3 linked regions of the Homo sapiens genome follow. The protein of the gene in region 1 purifies or fractionates together with the protein of each later gene. This does not show direct contact. Each region holds a gene or a part of one and is shown in the gene's direction. Other genes may lie near its edges.

Region 1 (7,107 bases):
CTCTATTAAAAATACAAAAATTAGCCGGGCATGGTGGCACAGGCCTGTAATCTCAGCTGCTTGGAAGGCTGAGGCACGATAATCGCTTGAACCCAGGAGGCTGAGAGATCGTGCCACTGCACTCCAGTCTGCACTCTGTCTCACACAAAAAAATAAAACAATAATAATAATAATTTCTGTAAAGACAGGTTTTTGCTATATTGCCCAGGATGTTCTCAAGTGATCCTCCCACAATGGCTTCCCAAAGTGCTGGGATTACAGGTGTGAGCCACCGTGCCCAGCCAGTGAACATTTTGAAATATCTGCCTTGTGTTAACTGGGTGTCTGTCCTTTCTCTTTTCAGTTGACTCTCTGTCTTGAAAGCCAACTGATATTTCAAAAATGAACATCAATGCATAGCTCCAGTTTAAAGACTTCAGTGACTCCCTGCCACCTCCACCCTGATCTAAGGGATTCAGGCTATCTGCCATTCAAGGCTTTTTGCAATCTGCTCCCGATTCCCCTTTCCAGTCAACTTGCATTTGATATCTCTGACTCACTCGTCCCTCAAAGCACCATGTATTTTCACAGCGCTCTGCTTCTGTGCTCAGGTTTTTCACTTTTGTATAATGTTCTCCTGTTATTCCCATGACTTCTAATCAAATCTACCTCTTTGAAGTTTTCCGGGTCTCCTGCCTTACCTGGTGCAGAATTAAATGCTTTCTCCATTCTGTCCCTCTGACCCTTCCCCGGCAAATCAGGGCTTGTTCTAAACTTGTCTCCTTCTGCCTCTACTGAGAAGTTTCCTTGTCATATTTACAAAAATAAGGGATATTGAAATGGAATAATCTCTGTAACTGACTCTTCAGATGCTTTCTAGAGGCGGTGAGATTTGAAGAAGGAATAAGATTTGCATACATAGAGAGTAGACATTTCAGGTGATATAAATTCTGGAAATAGGCATGATATGCAAGCCTGATGTATTCTCTTGATTGAACTGGAGGGTGCTGTTGGGGAATAGTGGTAAATAAGGTTGAAGAAGTTGTAGTGTTGAAATCGGGACAAGAACTTACACGTTTTATAGGGTGGACAGCAGAAGACTAGTTGAGGCTCTTTTTGTTCATTTAACTTATTTCTCTGTTAACAGAACTTTGGCGTGTTTATTAATTTTTTTGTAATAATTTTCAAAACAAGTGGGGAACAGTGGTATGCACCTGTAATCCCAGCTACTCAGGAGACTGAGGCAGGAGGATTGCTTGAGTCCAGTAGTTTAAGACCAGCCTGGGCAGCAAAGCGAGACCCCATCTCAAAAACAAAACACACACACACACACACACACACACACACACACACACACACACACACACCCCAAATTGCAAAGCAACGGAATAGTATTTAAGAAATATTATAAAATTTTACATAAATGTAAAATACAGCTTGTTATTTTATCAGCCTATCACACACTTTCATTTTCTTTTTATCTTTCATATGAATATTTGACCTCTTCCAAGTTTTTTTGTTTTTGTTTTTGTTTTTTTTTTTTTGAGACGGAGTCTTGCTCTATCACCCAGCTGGAGTGCAGTGGGGAGATCTCGGCTCACTGCAAGTTCCGCCTCCCGGATTCTCGCCATTCTCCTGCCTCAGTCTCCTGAGTAGCTGGGACTACTGGCGCCCGCCACCACGCCCGGCTAATTTTTTTTGGATTTTTAGTAGATACGGGATTTCACCGTGTTGGCCAGGTTGGTCTTGATCTCCTGACATCGTGATCCGCCCGCCTCGCCCTCCCAAAGTGCTGGGATTACAGGCATGAGCCACCGCGCCCGGCCCCCTCTTCCAAGTTTTTACTCAAAACTTCATTCTCAAGGAGGCCTTACCTGGTCATCTTAATTTGAATAGTGAAACACATACTCCTTATCTCCCTTGCCTGTTTATTTTTCTCCATCCCACTTTCTTTCATATGATTGTACAATATATTTTACTTATTCGCAATGCTTATTGTCTGTCATCTCCATTAGAGTGTAAACTCCAAGAAGTACTCAATAAATATTTGAATGAATGAATGAGTGAATGTATTACAGCATTGCTGTTATAATATCTGCTGTATTGTATATTTTTCCATTTTCACTTAATAGTCTGTCAGGTTTTCATCTGTTTTTCATAATTATACTTTTTGACAGTTACATTTGAGTGTATAGAATTAATTATACAATAATGGATTAAATCATGCGCCTAACGACATTTTGCTTTTATTTGTTTCTGTTCAATTCGTGGCTTAGTGTAATAAATTCCTGGAAGAAGAATTACACCTTTAAAGGATGTAAGGATTTTTTAGGGTTTTTTTTTTTTTTTTTTTTTTTTTGAGATGGAGTTTAGCTTTGTTGCCTAGGCTGGCGTCAAACTCCTGGGCTCAAGTGACTTCCTGCATTAGCCTCATGAGTAGCTGGGATTACAGGTGAGTGCTACCATGCCTGGCAGATGTAAGGATTTTTTTTTTTTTCAAGACAGAGTCTCGCTCTGTCACCCAGGCTGGAGTGCAGTGGTGCGATCTCAGCTCACTGCAAGCTCCGCCTCCCGGGTTCATGCCATTCTCCTGCCTCAGCCTCCCGAGTAGCTGGGACTACAGGCACCCCCCACCACGCCTGGCTAATTTTTTTGTATTTTTAGTAGAGACGGGGTTTCACCGTGTTAGCCAGGATGGTCTCGATCTCCTAACCTCGTGATCTGCCTGCCTCGGCCTCCCAAAGTGCTGGGATTATAGGCGTGAGCCACCACACCTGGCCAGATGTAAGGATTTTTATGGCACTTGCTCATAATAGGGAAGTGAGCATTTCTCTCCCTCCCTCTCTCTTTCTTTCTGACAAATACTTTTGTGCCCGTATATATAAATGCATTGTCCTTCAAATACTTTAGGCCCTGTCCTTGAAGCAGGGTAACCTGGGGCATTAATATATAAACAACAATTGCAATAAAATAATGAGATAAGTGCTAAGCAGATGTGTCAGAGGACAGACAGGTAGGGAGAATTAGAGAAAGTTTTCTGTGAGAGATCACAGCATTTAAACTGAGCGGTGAAGGACTTAAGTAGGCATAAGTGGGGAAACAGCATGAGTTAGAGGACAGAGATCTGAAATTGCAAGACATCTGTTGAGGCATCAAGAAGAGGGCTTGGGCCGGGCGCGGTGGCTCATGCCTGTAATCCCAGCACTTGAGGCTGAAGCAGGCGGATCACGAGGTCAGGAGATCGAGACCATCCTGGCTAACACAGTGAAACCCTGTCTCTACTAAAAATACAAAAAATTAGCTGGGTGTGGTGGCGTGCACCTGTAGTCCCAGCTACTCGGGAGACTGAGGCAGGAGAATCTCTTGAACCCGGGAGGCAGAGGTTGCAGTGATCCGAGACCATGCCACTGCACTCCAGCCTGGGCAACAGAGCGAGACTGTCTCAAAAAAAAAAAAAAAAAAAAAGAAGAGGACCTGAAGTGTAGAGTGGGAAATGAAGGCGGACAGGTAGCTTGGGGCATTGCACTGGGCCTCAGATGCTTTGCTAACATGTTTGGATTTTAGTCTGTACACAATACACAAAGGTGTTGTTTAAAGGTTGTGTCTCATTCCTTTGTAGCTGGGTAACCTCAGATAAGCTACTTAACCTCTCTGACTCTTAGTTTTCTCATCTGTAAAGTTGGAACAGCACAACTACTTAGCTAGATTATAAAGGAATAAAGAGATAATGGATATGAAGTTCTTAGCAGGATGCCTGATGCACAGTGGATGTTTACAAATGTTCATTTTTATTCCTAGTGGTTTATTTAAAATTGTACTTTTTTTTTTTTTTGAGACAGAGTCTGGCTCTGGAGTGCAGTAGCACCAGCTCAGCTCACTGCTCAGCCTCCCAGGCTCAAGTGATCCTCCCACCTCAGCCTCCCGAGTAGCTGGGACTACAGTCACGTGCCACCACACCTGGCTAATTTTTAAATTTTTTGTAGAAACAAGGTCTTGCCATGTTGCCCAGGCTGGTCTTGAACTCCTGGGCCCAAGCAATCCACCCACCTTGGCCTCCCAAAATCCTGGGATTACAGGTGTGAGCCACTGCGCCTGGCCTAAAATTGCACTTCTTGCAGAAAGAGAAAGTAAGATATTTTCACAGTATACTTAGTATGATTTAATAGAACAAGAAACCCAAGGTTCATTTCCCAGAATGTTAAGTAAGAGCCATATCTTTTATTGCTGCGTAGAATCTATTTTGTTGCTGAGGACAGATCCGCAAATGGACCTACCACAAATTGTTCATCCATCCATTTGTTGATGGACATTTGGGCTCTCTTCAGTTTTTGCTATTACAAATCAAGCTATAAGCATGCATGTACATGTCTATGTACGAACATATGCTTTTGTTTTGCTTGGGTAAATACCTAGGAGTGGAGGGGCTGGGTCATAGGATAGTTAAGTGTTTAATTTCTTTCGTTCTTTTTTTTTTTTTTTTTTGAGATGGAGTCTCACTGTGCCACCTACGCTGGAGTGCAGTGGTGCATCCTCGGCTCACTGCAACCTCTGCCTGCGGATTCAAACGATTCTCCTGCCTCAGCTTCCTGTGTGGCTGGGACTCCAGGCGTGCACCACCATGCCTGGCTAATTTTTTTTCTATTTTTAGTAGAGACGGGGTTTCACCAGGTTGGCCAGCCTGGTCTCAAACTCCTGACCTCAAATGATCCAACCGCCTTGGCCTCCCAAAGCGTAATTTCTTATGAAACCGCCAAACTGGTTTCCAAAGTGGTTATACCCTTTTATCTTCCCTCTCGCAATGAATGGGACTTCCCATTGGTGCACATCCTTGCCAACCCTTGGTGTGGTCAGTCATTGTAATTTTAGACATTCCGAGAAGTACATTCTGTTATCTCATTGGGATTTTGATTTTGTTTTCCCTAGTAGCTAACGATACTGAGTATCTTTTCATGTGCTTCACTTGCCAATCATATATCTTCTTGGGTATCTGTTCAAATCTTTTGCCCATTTTTAGCTGGGCACGGTGGCTCACACTTGTAATCCCAGCACTTTAGGAGGGCGAGGCGAGTGGATCATGAGGTCAGGAGATCGAGACCATTCTGGCTAACACGGTGAAACCCCATTTCTATTAAAAATACAACAAATTAGCCGGGCGTGGTGGCGGGCGCCTATAGTCTCAGCTACTACGGAGGCTGAGGCAGGAGAATGGTATGAACCCGGAGGTGGAGCTTGCAGTGAGCCGAGATCGCGCCACTGCACTTCAGCCTGGGTGACAGAGCAAGACTCTGTCTCAAAAAAAAAAAAAAAAACCTTTTGCACATTTTTTTTCTTTAATGGGCTGTTTGATTTCCTATTATAGGGTTTTGAAAGTTCTTTATACAATCTGGACACAAGTGCTTTACCAGATATGTGATTTGCAAATATTTTCTTCCAGTTTGGGCTTGATTTTTTATTCTCTTAACAGTGCCTTTCAAAGAGCAGGTGTCTTAATCTTAGTGAAATTCAGTTTCTCAAGCGTTTGTTTTTTCTTTTATGAATCTTTCAGCTTGACTCGTTATTGGCATGAGTGCTGGTGTACAATCAGTTGAAGCACTCACATATTGGCTGCTAAACAAAAGTATAACTTTTATCTAGAAAAGGCAGTTTAGAGGTGTCAATGAACAATATATGAAAGTATGGGCCAGACGTGGCGGCTCACGTCTGTAACCCCAGTACTTTGGGAGGCTGAGGCAGGCAGATCGCTTGAGGTCAGGAGTTCGAGACCAGCCTGGCCAACATGTTGAAACCCCATCTCTACTAAAAATACAAAAATTAGCTGGGTATGGTGGCAGGTACCTGTAATCCCAGCCACTTGGGAGGCTAAGGCACGAGAATCACTGGAACCTGGGAGGTTGAGGTTGCAGTGAGCTGAAATCACACCAGACTGGGTGACAGAGCAAGACTCCATTTCAAAAAAAAAGGAGACAAAGTGTGGAGTATATGAAAGTTGAAGACTATCTTCGGTCCAAGCCTCCAAATGGCTAAAGGAGGTATACAAAGGAAATAGCAAGCTAGAATATTGTTTTTCAATGATTGTTGAAATAATGGATCTAGCCAATGATCATCAGTAACTGCTAGCATCACAAAAGAGAGAGTCTGGCCAGGCGCAGTGGCTCACACCGGTAATCCCATTACTTTGGGAGACTGAGGCAGGCAGATGGCTTGAGCCCAGGAGTTCAAGATTAGCCTGGGCAACATAGGGAGACCCCATCTCTACTAAAAAAAACCCCACAACAGCAAGAACAATAATGAGCCAGGTATGGTGGTACACCCCTGTGGTCCCAGCTACTCGAGAGGCTGAGGTGGGAAGATTGCTGAAGCCTGGGAACCCAAGGCTGCCATGAGCCATGGGCACACCACTCACTCCAGCCTGCGGGACAGAGCGAGAATCTGTCTAAAAAAAAAAATCCTAATTGCAGAAATTCCAGTTGCTTTTGAAATATTTTCTGTTTGTTTTATTATAGTTACTAAACCGATAGATGAAGGAAGTTCAAAACTAGTTCAATATAGGACCCTTAAAGAGACTTTCTTTGACTGTCACCCTTTCTGATGGAGGGCTTAGGAAGTGAACCCTGATTCAATTGGCTCCTGGCCTTACTTAGGAAAAACAGACAAGAGGTTAGAATAGATGTTTCGATGGGTCCTTTCAAATCCCTGAGCCTGTCAATTTCTTTTATTTCCCACAGTTTAGTGAGTGGCACGATCATGATACTATGCTAGGTGGTACAATACTGCCACCTATGGAGCAACAGTAGAACTTGTTATAATGTTAACGATGCATGGATTTTTATACAATGCTGTTTAAAAATGTAGAAAACTTGCCATCCAAATGACTCCTTTGATTGGTAGGTTAATAACTGCCTCTCAAACTTATCTTTTGTGGACATCTGATTTGGGTTCACCTAAAAAAGACAAGTGTATGGAAAATGTGAATGAAAATATCTTAATAAACTTTTTGTTTTCTTAGTAGAAGAAATATGGGGACTTTGAATTGAAGATAATGAAATCATAATACTTTAGTTGTGGAAGGTACCTAAAGCATGATTCCGATGAGTGCTGTAGGATCAGTCCAGTTCAGTGTTGGCGCTC
Region 2 (8,008 bases), on another chromosome or scaffold:
TTTCTTTCTCTCTTATTGCCTTCCACTATGATTAAGTTAGTTTCTCTAGTAGTATATTTTGATACTTATTTTTTATTTTTAGGGCGTCTATTAAAAATGTTGTCTTTGTGGCTAACATGAGGCCTTTAAAAAAAATCCTGTAGCTATCACAAGTGATTTTAACCTGATAATAATTTGTTTGATTACAAAACATAAAACTACACCTTACCACCACTTCCCTCCCCGCATTTTGATATTTTCATGTCACAATTAACAGCTTTTATGTGCCATATACATTAACAATTTATTGTAGTTATTATTAATTTCAAGTTTTATCTTTTAGCCTTCATACTAAAGATAGAAGTGATTTATACATCACCATTATAGTATCACAGTATTCTGAATTTTGACTGTGTAATTAATTTTATTAGTGAGTTCTACACTTTTAGATTATTTTGTATTACTCATTAGCATCCTTTTCTTTCACCTTGAAGAACTCCTTTAGCATTTCTTGTAAAATAGGTCTGATGGTGACATACTTCCTCACCTTTGTATGTCTAGGAAAGTTTTCATTTCTCTGTCATTTCTGAAGAACAGCTTTGCTGAGTATAGTATGCTTGGATGGTTTTCTTTTTTTTCATTACTTTGATAATATTATTCCACTCTCCTCTGATCTTTAATGTTCCCTTTGAGAAATATGATTTGATTGCAGCACTATTCATACTAGCAAAAACATGGAATCGACTTAGGTGCCCATCAATGGTGGATTGGATAAAGAAAATATGGTGTATATACACCATGGAATACTACACAGTCATAAAAAATAAATAAAATCATGCATTTGCAGCAACATGGATGCAGTGGGAGGCCATTATCCTAAGTAGATTAATGCAGGAAGAGAAAACTATATACCACATGTTCTCAGTTATAGAGGGGAGCTAAATGTCAGATACTCATGAACATAAAGATGGAAATAATACACACTGAAGACTACTAGAGGAGAGAAGGAGGGAGGGAAGGGGACAAGGGTTGAAAAACTAAATGTTGGGTATTATAGTCAGTATCAGAATGACAGGAAAATTCATACCCCGAGCTTCAGCATCATGCAATATACCCAGGTAACAAATTTGCACACTTGGCCCCTGAATGTAAAATAACAGTTGAAAAAGAAAAAAAAGGTCTGATGTGAAGTGTATTGGAACTGTTTTGCATTTTATTTGCTTCTTTTCTTTTGCTGCTTCAGTATCATTTATTTGTCTTTGATCTTTCACAGTTTAATTATTATATGTCTAGTCTTTTTTGAATTGAATGTGATTGGTGACTGTTGACCATCCTGCACTTTGACTACATATATATATATATAATAGACACATACATATATATATAATATATATGTATATATGTATATGTATATATATGGGTGTATATATGTGTGTGTGTGTGTGTGTGTATATATATATATATATATATATATATATATATATATATGAACTCCTCAGATTTGGAAAGTTTTCTGTTATTACTTATTTAATAAGCTTTCTTTACTTTTCCATTTATCTTTCTCTAACTTCTCTTGAATGCCAGTAAATTGTCCCTTTGCTCACTTAATGCTATTCCATACATCTCATAAGTTTCCTTCATTCTATTCTTTTTTCTTTTTTCCTTTTCTGAGTATATATTGTCAAATAACCTGTATTCAAGCTCACAGATTATTCCTTCTGCTTGATCATTTCTGGTGTTAATGCACTCTATTGCACTTTTCACACTTTTCATTTTATTCATTGCATTCTTCAGCTCCTATATTAACATTAGATATTAAATGTTATCATTTTTACCCTTTGTTACATCTCTCTTTCTGGTCACTTATTGTTTTCATCATTTCATTTAATTATTTATCTGTATTTTATTAAAGTTCTTTGAGCTTCCTTAGAACAGCCATTTTAAATTCTCTTTCAGGCAGGTCATACATCTCCATGTCTTTGGGGCCAATCAATGGTATCTTATTTTGTTCATTTGGTACCTTATTTTGTTAATTTGGTGTCATCAGTTTTCCCCGATTGTTCTTGATCCTTGTGATTGTGCATTGATGTCTGCACATTGAAGAAGTAGGTACTTATTGAATTGCAGGTAGGTACTTGAATGCAGATATTGAATTTAAGGTAGGTACTTACTCCAGTTTGGCTTTGTCTGAGAATGTCCCTCAACTCTGTCCGGAAATTCTAGGCAGATCATCTGTTCTAGGTTTGTAAGCCTGTGACTGTTTCAGTCATTGCAGCACAAGGAGATGTCATAAACCCAGGACCACCATGGCCAGTTCTGCACCAGGCTGTAACCCATGGCTGCAGAGGCTGGCACAATGATGGAATGCATTCCCAACTCCTCCTCACTGATACCTGCCTACGTATGTTGGTTATTCATAATCCAAGGCTGCTGTAGTTGGCTGCCAGTGGTACAGGTAAGAACGCAAGTCTATCTCACAGGAACTATGTGTTCCTCTCTGCTGCTGGGGCAGGTCTTGCTGCTTAGGCCACAGGTATTCAAGCAGGGTCACTATGGGTGTCCTCCCAGTGCTGAATTTTACTATTATAGACTAGTATTTTGTTCCGTGAAAAAGTCCAAGCCTTACTTCATTCCCTTCCCCCCAAAAGAAAGTAGCTCTCTCTGCACTGTGCTGCCTGTGATTGGGTTAGGGGTGATACAGGAAACAAAATTGTCTTTCGTGCCCTCTTCAATGTGTATTTTTAATTATTATACTATAATCAGGTTCTGTAATATCTCATCTGGCCTGTTTAGCTTTTGAGAAACTATTATCATATGTGGATAATTATTAAATTCGACGTTTTGGAGGGTATAATCTCTGGGGAGTCCTACTCTACCAGGTTTTTCTGCCCATTCCCCAAAAATAACTATATTTGAATCTTTTCTAAGTTGTAAAGTGATTTCCCATAGAATTGAGCAAAATACATTTAAGTCCTCCTGTTTTCTTCTTTTCCTATGAGTATAAAACTTTCAGATTTTTGTGCCAATTTAGTGCACTTTAATATTTTTGCATTTTTTATTTGTCCAACAGGACAAATCATTTGATCACTTAATCTTTTCCCCCATCATAATTCCATATCTAAGATGTATGCATCACCATACCATTTTTATGCTTTCCAAATCACTGATTTCTGATTTCAACTTTATCAATACATTCCTTTATCATTTGGAAATGTTTTTTTCCACATTTCATTGAATTCAATTCTAATATGAATATAGTAATCACATGTTTTGCTTGGATTGCATTTTCCTGGTTTGTTTTTGCAAATATTGTGCCCTTTTGTTTTATCTGCATCTTTTGGACACTAGATGAGATGAAAGTTTTGTTCTTGATCCATAAGTAAGATTAATATTTCAGACTCTATTTTGTATCAGTAAGTTTGGAACAGAACAGTTTCTGGTATTTTCTTAAGGGAAGTGTGAGGAAGATTACAGTGGTTAGCAGACACAGTAATCAATTTTAGTTCAGAACAATATCACCTTACTCTGTTGGGGTTTCTGCAATAAGGAACTACTTACTGCCTTTGAGGCAAACAGATAAATTTGGTAAGATCTCAGAGTGGCTCATAGAGAAACCATGCAGCTCACATGATTTATGTTTGATAGCATAGCACTTTTTTTCTGTGGTTGGCCTTTCTCTTTTCCCCTTCCATAGAGCATTGCCTACAGGAAGGTTAAGATTCTAAGACAGAATAATTGAAAATAAGTTTTCAAGCTATCCTTTCCCCAGCACTACCCTCCAAGGTGTTCTGAATGTACACAGGGACACTGTTGGGATGCTTTCTTCTTCTCCTGTGGTCTGCTCATAACGAAGTCTTTATGACTCAAAGTAAAGAAAGTTTCTTCAGACTTTTCAGGATGTCATCACAATTGGAAAAATCTATGCTTCTACCAAAGGTGGGAATTTTAGCTTCATGTCCACTCACAATACATTATTCAATTCATTGATGGTGGCAAATATTTCTCACAGCCTGTTTGGGGATTCAGCTGTTTACTACTGAAGTAGAAACTTCTCTTAATTAAAAAGAAAATTCTGCTGTTTAGGTAGATTTCATGAAAAGAACCCAATCTAGAAACCAGCATTTTTACTTTTTTTCCAACAGTTGTTCCTATCACCATGAAAGCATATTAAAATTCTTTCATCCTTTGAAAACACATCTGGAACTTACCTCACCCTCCAGATACAGCCTCAGCTCTCACTCCACCATGAATTCAGACTTCCTGAGAAGGTTGCAGCTGGTCTCCATCCTTCAACTGACAACCCAATGCAATTGTATTCATCTCTCATTAAAGTTACTAGCAACAACTAAGAAAAACTTTGGATACATGTCAGTCTTTATTGTGTTGAACTTGACAGACATATTTGACATTGGAGTGCCCCATTTACTTGTTTAAAATTTCTTTCTTTGGATTCCATAACGTTTCATTATCTTCTATATCATTGGACTTCTATGATTGCTCATTCTTAGGTAAAATAGAACGTGTCTCAAGATCATTTTTAAAACAAAAGGAAGTATGGAGTTCTATCTAAAATAGAGTATTTAAATTATTGCATCATGAAGGGAAACTCACATTTAGAATATAAAGGCATTCTCAGAAACCAATTGCTTTTGTAGCCTGAAGCCAGTCTCTTTCCTACTTTTGTCTATAATTCTGTAAAATTAAAGTGATCTGGCATGATGATCTAAAAGGACTGATAAAAATTTGCTGGGGCTGCCAGAAGAAAGAAAATGCCTTTGACATTATGTTGCTGGGGACATTGACTTTGTCCCACACTCAGCAGGGGTGAGGAAGTTGGCATTTACTGATAAGCTAAGAAAAGTCAGTGCCTTTTGTAATTTAAGCTCCACCCATGGCACACTCACTCAAGGAAGATATAAATGACAAGGTCGGCTCAGCTCTCAGACAAGGTTTTCCAAGCAAGATGAAGCCCAACATCATCTTTGTACTTTCCCTGCTCCTCATCTTGGAGAAGCAAGCAGCTGTGATGGGACAAAAAGGTGAGTGGAGAGGGTAAGCCTTGGGGAAAGCTGCTCAGACAGCTAATAATCTAAGATTATTTGGGGTGCAAACAGTAACCTGTTTAGGCACAGATTCTTCTCTTTGAAGAGAATTGATTTTCTCCACCCAAAGCTTCAGCTTTTCTAGAAATATCAATAATTTGTTGGGGGAAAAGTGGGGGGTAAGAGTTGTAAGGGAGCTTTGGAGATAATGAATGCATACCTTCTTATTATCAATTACCAGGTGGATCAAAAGGCCGATTACCAAGTGAATTTTCCCAATTTCCACACGGACAAAAGGGCCAGCACTATTCTGGACAAAAAGGCAAGCAACAAACTGAATCCAAAGGCAGTTTTTCTATTCAATACACATATCATGTAGATGCCAATGATCATGACCAGTCCCGAAAAAGTCAGCAATATGATTTGAATGCCCTACATAAGACGACAAAATCACAACGACATCTAGGTGGAAGTCAACAACTGCTCCATAATAAACAAGAAGGCAGAGACCATGATAAATCAAAAGGTCATTTTCACAGGGTAGTTATACACCATAAAGGAGGCAAAGCTCATCGTGGGACACAAAATCCTTCTCAAGATCAGGGGAATAGCCCATCTGGAAAGGGAATATCCAGTCAATATTCAAACACAGAAGAAAGGCTGTGGGTTCATGGACTAAGTAAAGAACAAACTTCCGTCTCTGGTGCACAAAAAGGTAGAAAACAAGGCGGATCCCAAAGCAGTTATGTTCTCCAAACTGAAGAGCTAGTAGCTAACAAACAACAACGTGAGACTAAAAATTCTCATCAAAATAAAGGGCATTACCAAAATGTGGTTGAAGTGAGAGAGGAACATTCAAGTAAAGTACAAACCTCACTCTGTCCTGCGCACCAAGACAAACTCCAACATGGATCCAAAGACATTTTTTCTACCCAAGATGAGCTCCTAGTATATAACAAGAATCAACACCAGACAAAAAATCTCAATCAAGATCAACAGCATGGCCGAAAGGCAAATAAAATATCATACCAATCTTCAAGTACAGAAGAAAGACGACTCCACTATGGAGAAAATGGTGTGCAGAAAGATGTATCCCAAAGCAGTATTTATAGCCAAACTGAAGAGAAAGCACAGGGCAAGTCTCAAAAACAGATAACAATTCCCAGTCAAGAGCAAGAGCATAGCCAAAAGGCAAATAAAATATCATACCAATCTTCAAGTACGGAAGAAAGACGACTCCACTATGGAGAAAATGGTGTGCAGAAAGATGTATCCCAACGCAGTATTTATAGCCAAACTGAAAAGCTAGTAGCAGGCAAGTCTCAAATCCAGGCACCAAATCCTAAGCAAGAGCCATGGCATGGTGAAAATGCAAAAGGAGAGTCTGGCCAATCTACAAATAGAGAACAAGACCTACTCAGTCATGAACAAAAAGGCAGACACCAACATGGATCTCATGGGGGATTGGATATTGTAATTATAGAGCAGGAAGATGACAGTGATCGTCATTTGGCACAACATCTTAACAACGACCGAAACCCATTATTTACATAAACCTACCATTCGGTAACCATGTGAAAGGATGGACCAATATCAAGGTAATTTTTTTTTAGCAAATAGGGGAGATATCTCTCTCATTGTTTAGAATTGTTGGGGACTCTCCAGGACTTTTGTGGGATTGATAACCATTGTTCGCACCAATAGAAGTGCTGTATAACAAGTGGTAGGAAGATGAGCCTCCCCATTCCCTGGTGAGGAGAGGGTCTGGTAGTGGCACAGAAGGATGTTTGGCCTATCATGAGGTCCTAGAATTCCTATCCTTAATTGAATATTCTTCAATAATATTTTTTTGTATATGCCTACCTGCTAAAGGTTTTTTTGAACAGGTACTGACTACATATGCATATTTATAAGTTTATGGTATACTCTTGTCAGTTCTTATACTTTAGATTAGTAAACCTCAGTTTCTTTCCTATATAGTATAAAGGATTACAGCCATTAATGTTTTCTTTCTGCACACCAGTGAATGTTCTTGCATCCCTGTTAGGGTTCATCTATGCTCCTTCAGAGACCACAAGCCCAAAGACTATCAGTCCTCCCTCTCAGAATACAGGAAAGAGATATGTAGAAAGATCCTTGTTCATGTTGTGAAAGAGAAGATGGAAAGGGAGACACAAGAGATGGTGAGGGATCTCATGGGCCAATTGGGTGTTTACAACATCAGGAGAAGAAAACTGAAGCCCTGAGAGGGGTAATGGTGCTTCCCTGCCTCTTTGCAGTAAGTAACACTGCACTTGAAGAGAGGGCAAGCAGTAGAAACAGTGGCCCCAGCTGGCAACTAGTGGCCTGGTATCCTAGTAGTAGAGGGCTGGTACAGTTGGAGCTGAAGGGGACAGGGGGCCCAGCTACCATCCCCACCCTTCACTTTTTACTATACTCACATCACTGATTCTCTTCTTTCTCTCTAGGTGTCAGTTGACCTCAGTGAATTCTGTGATGTTTCTGAGATGCAGACTCCCGTGTAGTTTCAGATTCTTGGTCCATGGATGACACCACCTGCCCATGCTTCCTTGAATTAGGCTTTCCTAACCTGAAGCGCCTTCAAACTTCCAATAAAGAGATCATTTTCTGCTTCATCTGCTTTTGACTCCTGTTTTCTCTGGATTCCTAGTGGCTCAAGGGGTTGAGGGCATTTCTAATGTAAGTGGTTTTGAAAGAAAATAAAGGGATATTTTTGAAGCACTAGGGAGAATAGTAATCAAAGCCACATTTCAAGATATATTGATAGAAACCAACACTAAAAATAGGGTGCTGTTAGTCTACCAGTCACATGTCTACCACCTGAGGCCAACACTAAAGGCTTTCATGACCCTGGTACTAATAAGACCCCAGGAACTAAAAATATCCCAGAAAGACAAGAGAAAATGTATTGCAACAGGCCCTGGGAAAGTCCCTGATCTGCTGGTGATCAATTCCACAGTAGCACA
Region 3 (7,806 bases), on another chromosome or scaffold:
ATAAATTACCCATGACATGTAAATCTTATACACTAAAGGCTACAAAACACTTCCCCAAGAAAGTAAAGACCTAAATAAATGGATGTAGATCCTTTATTTGTGAAATGGAGGACTTAATATTGTTAAGATGGCACACTACCCAAAGTGATAATCAAATCACTGCAATTCTCTCTCTTTTTCTTTTCTTTTTTTTTTTTTTTTTTTGAGATGGAGTCTGACTCTGTCGCCCAGGCTGGAGTGCAGTGGCACGATCTCAGCTCACTGCAACCTCGGCCTCCCAGGCTCAAGCGATTCTCCTGTCTCAGCCTCCTGAGTAGCTGGGATTACAGGCGCACGCTGTCATACTTGGCTAATTTTTTGTATTTTACTAGAGACGGGGTTTCACCGTGTTGCCCAAGCTGGTCTCGAACTTCTGAGCTCAGGCAATCCACCCGTCTTGGCCTCCCAAAGTGCTAGGATTACAGCCACCGTGCCCAGCCCGAATCAATGCAATTCTTATCAAAAATTTTATGGCTTTCTTGTAGAAATGGAAAAGTGGGTTCTAACGTTCATTTGGAATTTCAAGGGATCCCAAATAGCCGTACAATCTTGACTAAGAGGAACACAGTTGGAAGACTCACACTTCACAAATACTATCTTATAACCCATTATTTAAACTGACAACAACTTAACACTGCTTCCATAAACAAACAAGAGAAAGAAAACTAATAAAGACTCTATACTTTAACTTCATTCCCGCCACTTTTTAACTGATAATTGCTGTGCTTTCTCTCACCCCATGCACAGAAATGCTCTGTGCCCCATACCTGCAACCGGGAGATGAAGGAGGAGTGGCATCAGTGATACAAGTGTTTTTCCTACCCCTTCAGCGCCTCTTTCAGTGATATAAAGTTAAAATCAGTTACTGTGAGTGCTCACCTGATTTTTTGGTTCTTATAAAGGTGATCTTTCTCTGCAGATACTTGTTAAATTGGTGACCTTGGTGGGGGCAGGGGGGATCATTGGAGCCTTCTATTCCACCATCTTGTTCTGCCACCCTCCTCTCTTAATTTTTATTCTCTCTGAACGATTTTATTTCTCCTTCATTTCTGAAGGATAGCTTTGCTGAGGGTAATGTTCTTAGCTGACAGTTTTCTCTTTTAGTAATTTGAATATATTATGCCATTCTTTCCTGGCCTGTAAGGTTTCTCCCGAGAAATTCTCTGTTAGTCAGATGGGGGTTACCTTATATGTGACTTGACATTTTTCTCTTGCTGCTTTTAAAAATCTTTCTTTGTCTTTGACTTTTAGCAATGCAATTAAAATGTGCCTTGGAGAGAACCCGTTTAGGTTGAATTTATTTAGGGTTCTTATAGCTTCCTGGACCTGGATTTCTATCTCTCTCCCAAGATGCAAGAAGTTTTCTGCTATTATTTTATGCGTCTGATGGAAAAGTTGCCTCTTCCAATTTTATGGAGTAGATTTTATAAGCGAAAACTTATTTTTATGAATGGGTCTTTAGGTGTTAGTTCATTTGAGTTTGTTGGTTTTTGTTGCAGGTGTATGTAGCAGTATTGTTTCCATAGAGTTTCTTCACCTATGATCCACACTTGTGGCACTTGAGAGTTTCTCAGCGCCCTAGTTGAGAGAGTGTGCTGCTACAGTGGCATGGCTTTGCCAGTGCTGTGGTTCCAGCGCTAATTCTCAGGTCAGGGGTGTGTGCATCCACGTGGTAGGTAATTCAATTAAGGTATGACTCAATGGTATTGGGGCCAGGGTGCTGTTATCCTGGCTGGAAGCATGGGCACATGTTTGTTCAGTCAGTGAGTGTGACTACAGGCTAGGGGTGGCCTGTGAAGCTGTTTCTTGGTTTCAGGACGTGGAAGTACAGCTTCTCAACTGGTCTGAAGACATGTCTGCCAGGGTCAGTCTACTGGGCTTTTTCTCAGGCCCAAGATGTGGGTGTAAGGCTGCTTGGATGGCCTACGAGAGGAAGGGAATGAGAGAGGAAAGAGGGCTTTTTCTCAGGCACTTGACACAGCTGCATGGCTGAGTGGCTAGGCTTTGAGCATTTCTGTAAGGGGTGGCCCAAGAAGATATTCTGTAGGCCTAGGGTGTAGGCATGGAGCTTCTTGGTTGTCCTTCATGTGTGACCACCAGAGGCAATCTGTAGGACTGTTTCTCAGACCTGGGACATGACCACATAACTACTTGGCTGGCTTGGGTATGCCCACCAGGGGTGGCCCATGGGCTGTTTCTCAGGTTTGGGAAATGGGCTCTCGGCAGCTGGGCCAGCGTGGTGTCAAGCCCAGCAGGGGAGCTTGTGAGTCTGTTTCTCAAGCTCTTATTGGGAGTATAGGGCCACTGAGCAGGCCATGGATGTGTCTCTGGAGGGAGAGAGTGTTACAGGGCTATTTCTCAGGTACTCAGTGTGGACACATAGCCACTGTGCTGCCACAGGGGCATATAAACTGTGTCAAGCTCAGTGACCTGTCTCCTACTTGGTGAACTTTAAAATATTCTACTATTTTTTCCTTGTTTATTTTTTATCATTTGATATTTTCCCAATCATGATACCACATCTAAGATGTATGCAGCACTATACCATGTTTATGCTTTCCAAATTACCGATTTCTGCTTTCATCTTTATCAATAGATTTATTTTTAATTTTGAAATGCTTTTTTTTCAAATTTCATTAAATCCAATCATGATATGAGTATCATAATCACATGTTGTGCCTAGTTTGCATTTTCCTGCTTTGTTTTTGCAAATCTTGTGCACCTTTGTTTTATCTGTATCTTTTGGACACTAGATTAGTTGGAAGTTTTGTTCTTGATCCATAAGTAAGATTAATATTTCAGACTCTTGTTTGTTCCGGTAATCTTGGAACACAACAGTTCCTGGTATTTCCTTAAGGGAAGTGTAAGGAAGATTATAGTGATTAGCAGGTACAGCAATAAATTTGTGTTCAGGAAAACTTTACTCTTTTCTTTTGGGGTCCCTGCCATAAGGAAATACTTACTGCCCTTAGGGCAAACAGATAAAACTGGTAAGATCTCAGAATGGCTCATAGAGAAACCACATAGCTCACATGCTTCAAGTTTGATGGCATAAGTAGCATTTTTTCCTATGGTTGGCCTTTCCCCTCTCCCCTTCCATATAGCATTGCTTACAGGAAGGTTAGGATTTTAAGAGAGAATAATAGAAAATAAGTTTCCAAGCCGTCCTTTCTCCAGAACTACCCTCCACAGTGTTCTGAATGCATACAGGGTCACTGTTCAAATGTTGCTGCTTCTCCTGTTGTCTTCTCATAACAAGGACTTTTTCAGTCAAAGTAAAGAAACTGGCCGGGTGCAGTGGCTCATGCCTGTAATCCCAGCAGTTTGGGAGGCTGAGGCGGGCGGATCACGAGGTCAGGAGATTGAGACCATCCTGGCTAACACGGTGAAACCCCGTCTCTACTAAAAATACAAAAAATTAGCCGGGCGTGGTGGCAGGCACCTGTAGTCCCAGCTACTTGGGAAGCTGAGGCAGGAGAATGGCATGAACCTGGGAGGCACAGCTTGCAGTGAGCCGAGATGGTGCCACTGCACTCCAGCCTGGGCGACAGAGCGAGACTCTGTCTCAAAAACAAACAAACAAAAAAAACAAAACAAACAAACAAACAAACAAAAAACCTTCCTTGGATTTTTCAAGAAGTTTTCACAATTGCAAAAAAACAAAACAAAACAACACAACACAACAAAACAAAACAAAAGCAAAAAAACCCTATGCTTCCACCCAAGGTAAAAATTTTAGCTTTAGGTCCACTCTCAATACATTATTTAATGAACTGAAGTTGGCAAATATTCCTCACAGCCTGTTGGAGGGTTCAGCAGTTTATTACAGAAGTATGAAATGCTTTTATTTAAAAAATGTATTTTGGTAAATACATTTTTGTTTAGGTAAATATCATCAAATAATCCAATTTGGAAACCAACATTCTTACTTCTTTTTCCAACAGTTGTTCCTATCATCATAAAAACATGTTAAATTTTTCTCATCCTTTCAAAAAATCTCTGGAGCTTACCTCACCCTCCAGATACAGCCTCACCTCTCATTCCACCATGAAATCAGACTTCTTGAGATGGTTTCAGCTGGACTCCATCCTTCAACTGACAACCCAACACAACTGTATTCATCTCTCGTTAACATTACTAGCAGTGAGTAACATCAGAAAGTTTTTGACACATGTTAGTCTTTTTTGTGATGAACTTCACAGATACATTTGACATTGGTATGCCTCATTTATTTGTTGAAATTTTTTTCTTTGGCTTCCATGAAGTTTCTTTCTCTTCTGTATCATTCTACTTCTATGACTGCTCCTTCTCGAGTAAAACAGAATGTGTCTCAGGATTACTTTAAAACAAGACAAAGTATAGAGTTATACCTAAAATTTAGTATTTAAGTTATTGGATCAGAAAGGAAACTCGCATTTAGAGTATGAAGGCATTGTCAGCCACCAATTACTTTTGTAACCTGAAGCTAGTCTCCTTCCTACTCCGGACTGAATTTCTTCTGTATAATGCAAGCGATCTGGCATGATGATATACAAAGACCGATAAAATTTTGCTGGGGATTCTGAAAGTAAAAAAAATTGCCTTTGATATTATGTCCCCATGCTAAGTCCCTGGGGACTTTGACATTATCCCCCACTGAGCAGGGGTGAGGAAGCTGGCATTTACTAATAAGCTATGAAAGGGCAGTGCCTTTTGACATTTCAGCTCCACCCATAGCACACCCACTCAAGGAACATATAAATGAAGAGATCCGCTCAGTTCTCAGACAAGATTTTTCAAGCAAGATGAAGTCCATCATCCTCTTTGTCCTTTCCCTGCTCCTTATCTTGGAGAAGCAAGCAGCTGTGATGGGACAAAAAGGTGAGTGGAGAGGGTAAGCCTTGGGGAAAGCTACTTTAAAAAAATGGCCTCTAAGGATATTCAGGGTGCAAACAGTAACCTGTTCAGGCACAGATTCTTCTCCTTGATGAGAATTGATTTTTCTCCACCCAACGCTGTAGGCTTTTGGAAATATCAGAAATTTGTTGGGAAAAGGTGGGAGGTAAGAGTTGCAAGAGAGCTTTGGAGATAATGAATGCATACATTTCTATTATCAATTACCAGGTGGATCAAAAGGCCAATTGCCAAGCGGATCTTCCCAATTTCCACATGGACAAAAGGGCCAGCACTATTTTGGACAAAAAGACCAACAACATACTAAATCCAAAGGCAGTTTTTCTATTCAACACACATATCATGTAGACATCAATGATCATGACTGGACCCGAAAAAGTCAGCAATATGATTTGAATGCCCTACATAAGGCGACAAAATCAAAACAACACCTAGGTGGAAGTCAACAACTGCTCAATTATAAACAAGAAGGCAGAGACCATGATAAATCAAAAGGTCATTTTCACATGATAGTTATACATCATAAAGGAGGCCAAGCTCATCATGGGACACAAAATCCTTCTCAAGATCAGGGGAATAGCCCATCTGGAAAGGGATTATCCAGTCAATGTTCAAACACAGAAAAAAGGCTATGGGTTCATGGACTAAGTAAAGAACAAGCTTCAGCCTCTGGTGCACAAAAAGGTAGAACACAAGGTGGATCCCAAAGCAGTTATGTTCTCCAAACTGAAGAACTAGTAGTTAACAAACAACAACGTGAGACTAAAAATTCTCATCAAAATAAAGGGCATTACCAAAATGTGGTTGACGTGAGAGAGGAACATTCAAGTAAACTACAAACTTCACTCCATCCTGCACATCAAGACAGACTCCAACATGGACCCAAAGACATTTTTACTACCCAAGATGAGCTCCTAGTATATAACAAGAATCAACACCAGACAAAAAATCTCAGTCAAGATCAAGAGCATGGCCGGAAGGCACATAAAATATCATACCCGTCTTCACGTACAGAAGAAAGACAACTTCACCATGGAGAAAAGAGTGTACAGAAAGATGTATCCAAAGGCAGCATTTCTATCCAAACTGAAGAGAAAATACATGGCAAGTCTCAAAACCAGGTAACAATTCATAGTCAAGATCAAGAGCATGGCCATAAGGAAAATAAAATATCATACCAATCTTCAAGTACAGAAGAAAGACATCTCAACTGTGGAGAAAAGGGCATCCAGAAAGGTGTATCCAAAGGCAGTATTTCGATCCAAACTGAAGAGCAAATACATGGCAAGTCTCAAAACCAGGTAAGAATTCCTAGTCAAGCTCAAGAGTATGGCCATAAGGAAAATAAAATATCATACCAATCTTCGAGTACAGAAGAAAGACGTCTCAACAGTGGAGAAAAGGATGTACAGAAAGGTGTATCCAAAGGCAGTATTTCTATCCAAACTGAAGAGAAAATACATGGCAAGTCTCAAAACCAGGTAACAATTCCTAGTCAAGATCAAGAGCATGGCCATAAGGAAAATAAAATGTCATACCAATCTTCAAGTACAGAAGAAAGACGACTCAACTATGGAGGAAAGAGCACGCAGAAAGATGTATCCCAAAGCAGTATTTCTTTCCAAATTGAAAAGCTAGTAGAAGGCAAGTCTCAAATCCAGACACCAAATCCTAATCAAGATCAATGGTCTGGCCAAAATGCAAAAGGAAAGTCTGGTCAATCTGCAGATAGCAAACAAGACCTACTCAGTCATGAACAAAAAGGCAGATACAAACAGGAATCCAGTGAGTCACATAATATTGTAATTACTGAGCATGAGGTTGCCCAAGATGATCATTTGACACAACAATATAATGAAGACAGAAATCCAATATCTACATAGCCCTGTTGCTTAGCAACCACTTGAAAAGCTGGACCAATAGCAAGGTAAGTTTGCTTTTCTTACCAAATAGGAGAGGTGCCTGTCCCAAAGTTGGGGACTCTCCAGGAACATGGTAGGACTGATAACCATTGTTCACATCAATAGAAGTGCTATATTACAAGTGGTGGGAAGATGAACACCATTTCCTGGCGAGTAGAGGACCTGGTAGTGGCAGGGAAGGCTGCTTGGACTATCACTGGGTCCTAGAATTCCTATTCTTAATTGAGTATTCTTCAATAATATTTTTATACATGCCTACCTGCTAAAGATTTTTTTGAACATGCACTGACTATATATGCATATTTATGAGTTTATGGTATACTCTTGTCAATTCTTATACTTTAGATTAGTAAACCTCAAATTCTTTCTCATATAGTATGAAATATTACAGCAGTTAATATTTTCTTTCTGCACATACATGAATGTTCTTGCATCCCTGTTAGAGTTCATCTATGCTCCTTCAGAGACCACAAGCCCAAAGACTAGCAGTCCACTCTCTCTGAATATAGGAAAGATATGAGTAGAAAGAAGGATTCCTGTTCAGATTGTGAAAAAGGAAGTGGAAATGGAGGTGCAGGAGATGCTGAGAGATCTCAGGTGCTAACTGGACACTTGCAATGTCAGGAGAGGAAAATTTTAACCTGGATTGGGGAAATGGTTCTTCCATGCCCCTTTGCAATAAGTAACACTGTACCTGAAGAGAGGGTAAGCAGCAGAAACAATGGTCCCAGCTGATAACTAGTGACCTGGTGTCCTAATGATCAGGGGGCTGGTGCAGTTGACGCTAAAGGGGACAGGGGTCCCAGCTCTCCCATCCTCACCCCCACTCTCCACTATCCTCACATATCTGGTTGTCTTTTTTCTCCCTAGGTGTCACCCGACCTCAGTGAAGTCTTTGATGTTTCTGAGAGGCAGACTCCCATGTGGTCCCAGATCCTTGGTCCATGGATGA

The links.
Region 2: the proteins of HACD1 (region 1) and SEMG1 purify together in Homo sapiens (affinity purification with mass spectrometry; 3 studies listed by BioGRID and IntAct, with this or other methods). This does not show direct contact.
Region 3: the proteins of HACD1 (region 1) and SEMG2 purify together in Homo sapiens (affinity purification with mass spectrometry; 3 studies listed by BioGRID and IntAct, with this or other methods). This does not show direct contact.

The regions. Positions count from the first base shown.
Region 1 is NC_000010.11:17,607,337-17,614,443, reverse strand, and holds part of HACD1 (very-long-chain (3R)-3-hydroxyacyl-CoA dehydratase 1), read left to right. Parts: intron 1-7,107.
Region 2 is NC_000020.11:45,202,112-45,210,119, forward strand, and holds SEMG1 (semenogelin-1 preproprotein), read left to right. Parts: upstream 1-4,921; 5' UTR 4,922-4,942; coding exon 4,943-5,018; intron 5,019-5,262; coding exon 5,263-6,575; 3' UTR 6,576-6,619; intron 6,620-7,489; 3' UTR 7,490-7,657; downstream 7,658-8,008. UniProt on the Homo sapiens protein: Predominant protein in semen. It participates in the formation of a gel matrix entrapping the accessory gland secretions and ejaculated spermatozoa.
Region 3 is NC_000020.11:45,216,567-45,224,372, forward strand, and holds the start of SEMG2 (semenogelin-2 precursor), read left to right. Parts: upstream 1-4,806; 5' UTR 4,807-4,823; coding exon 4,824-4,899; intron 4,900-5,142; coding exon 5,143-6,815; 3' UTR 6,816-6,859; intron 6,860-7,724; 3' UTR 7,725-7,806. UniProt on the Homo sapiens protein: Participates in the formation of a gel matrix (sperm coagulum) entrapping the accessory gland secretions and ejaculated spermatozoa.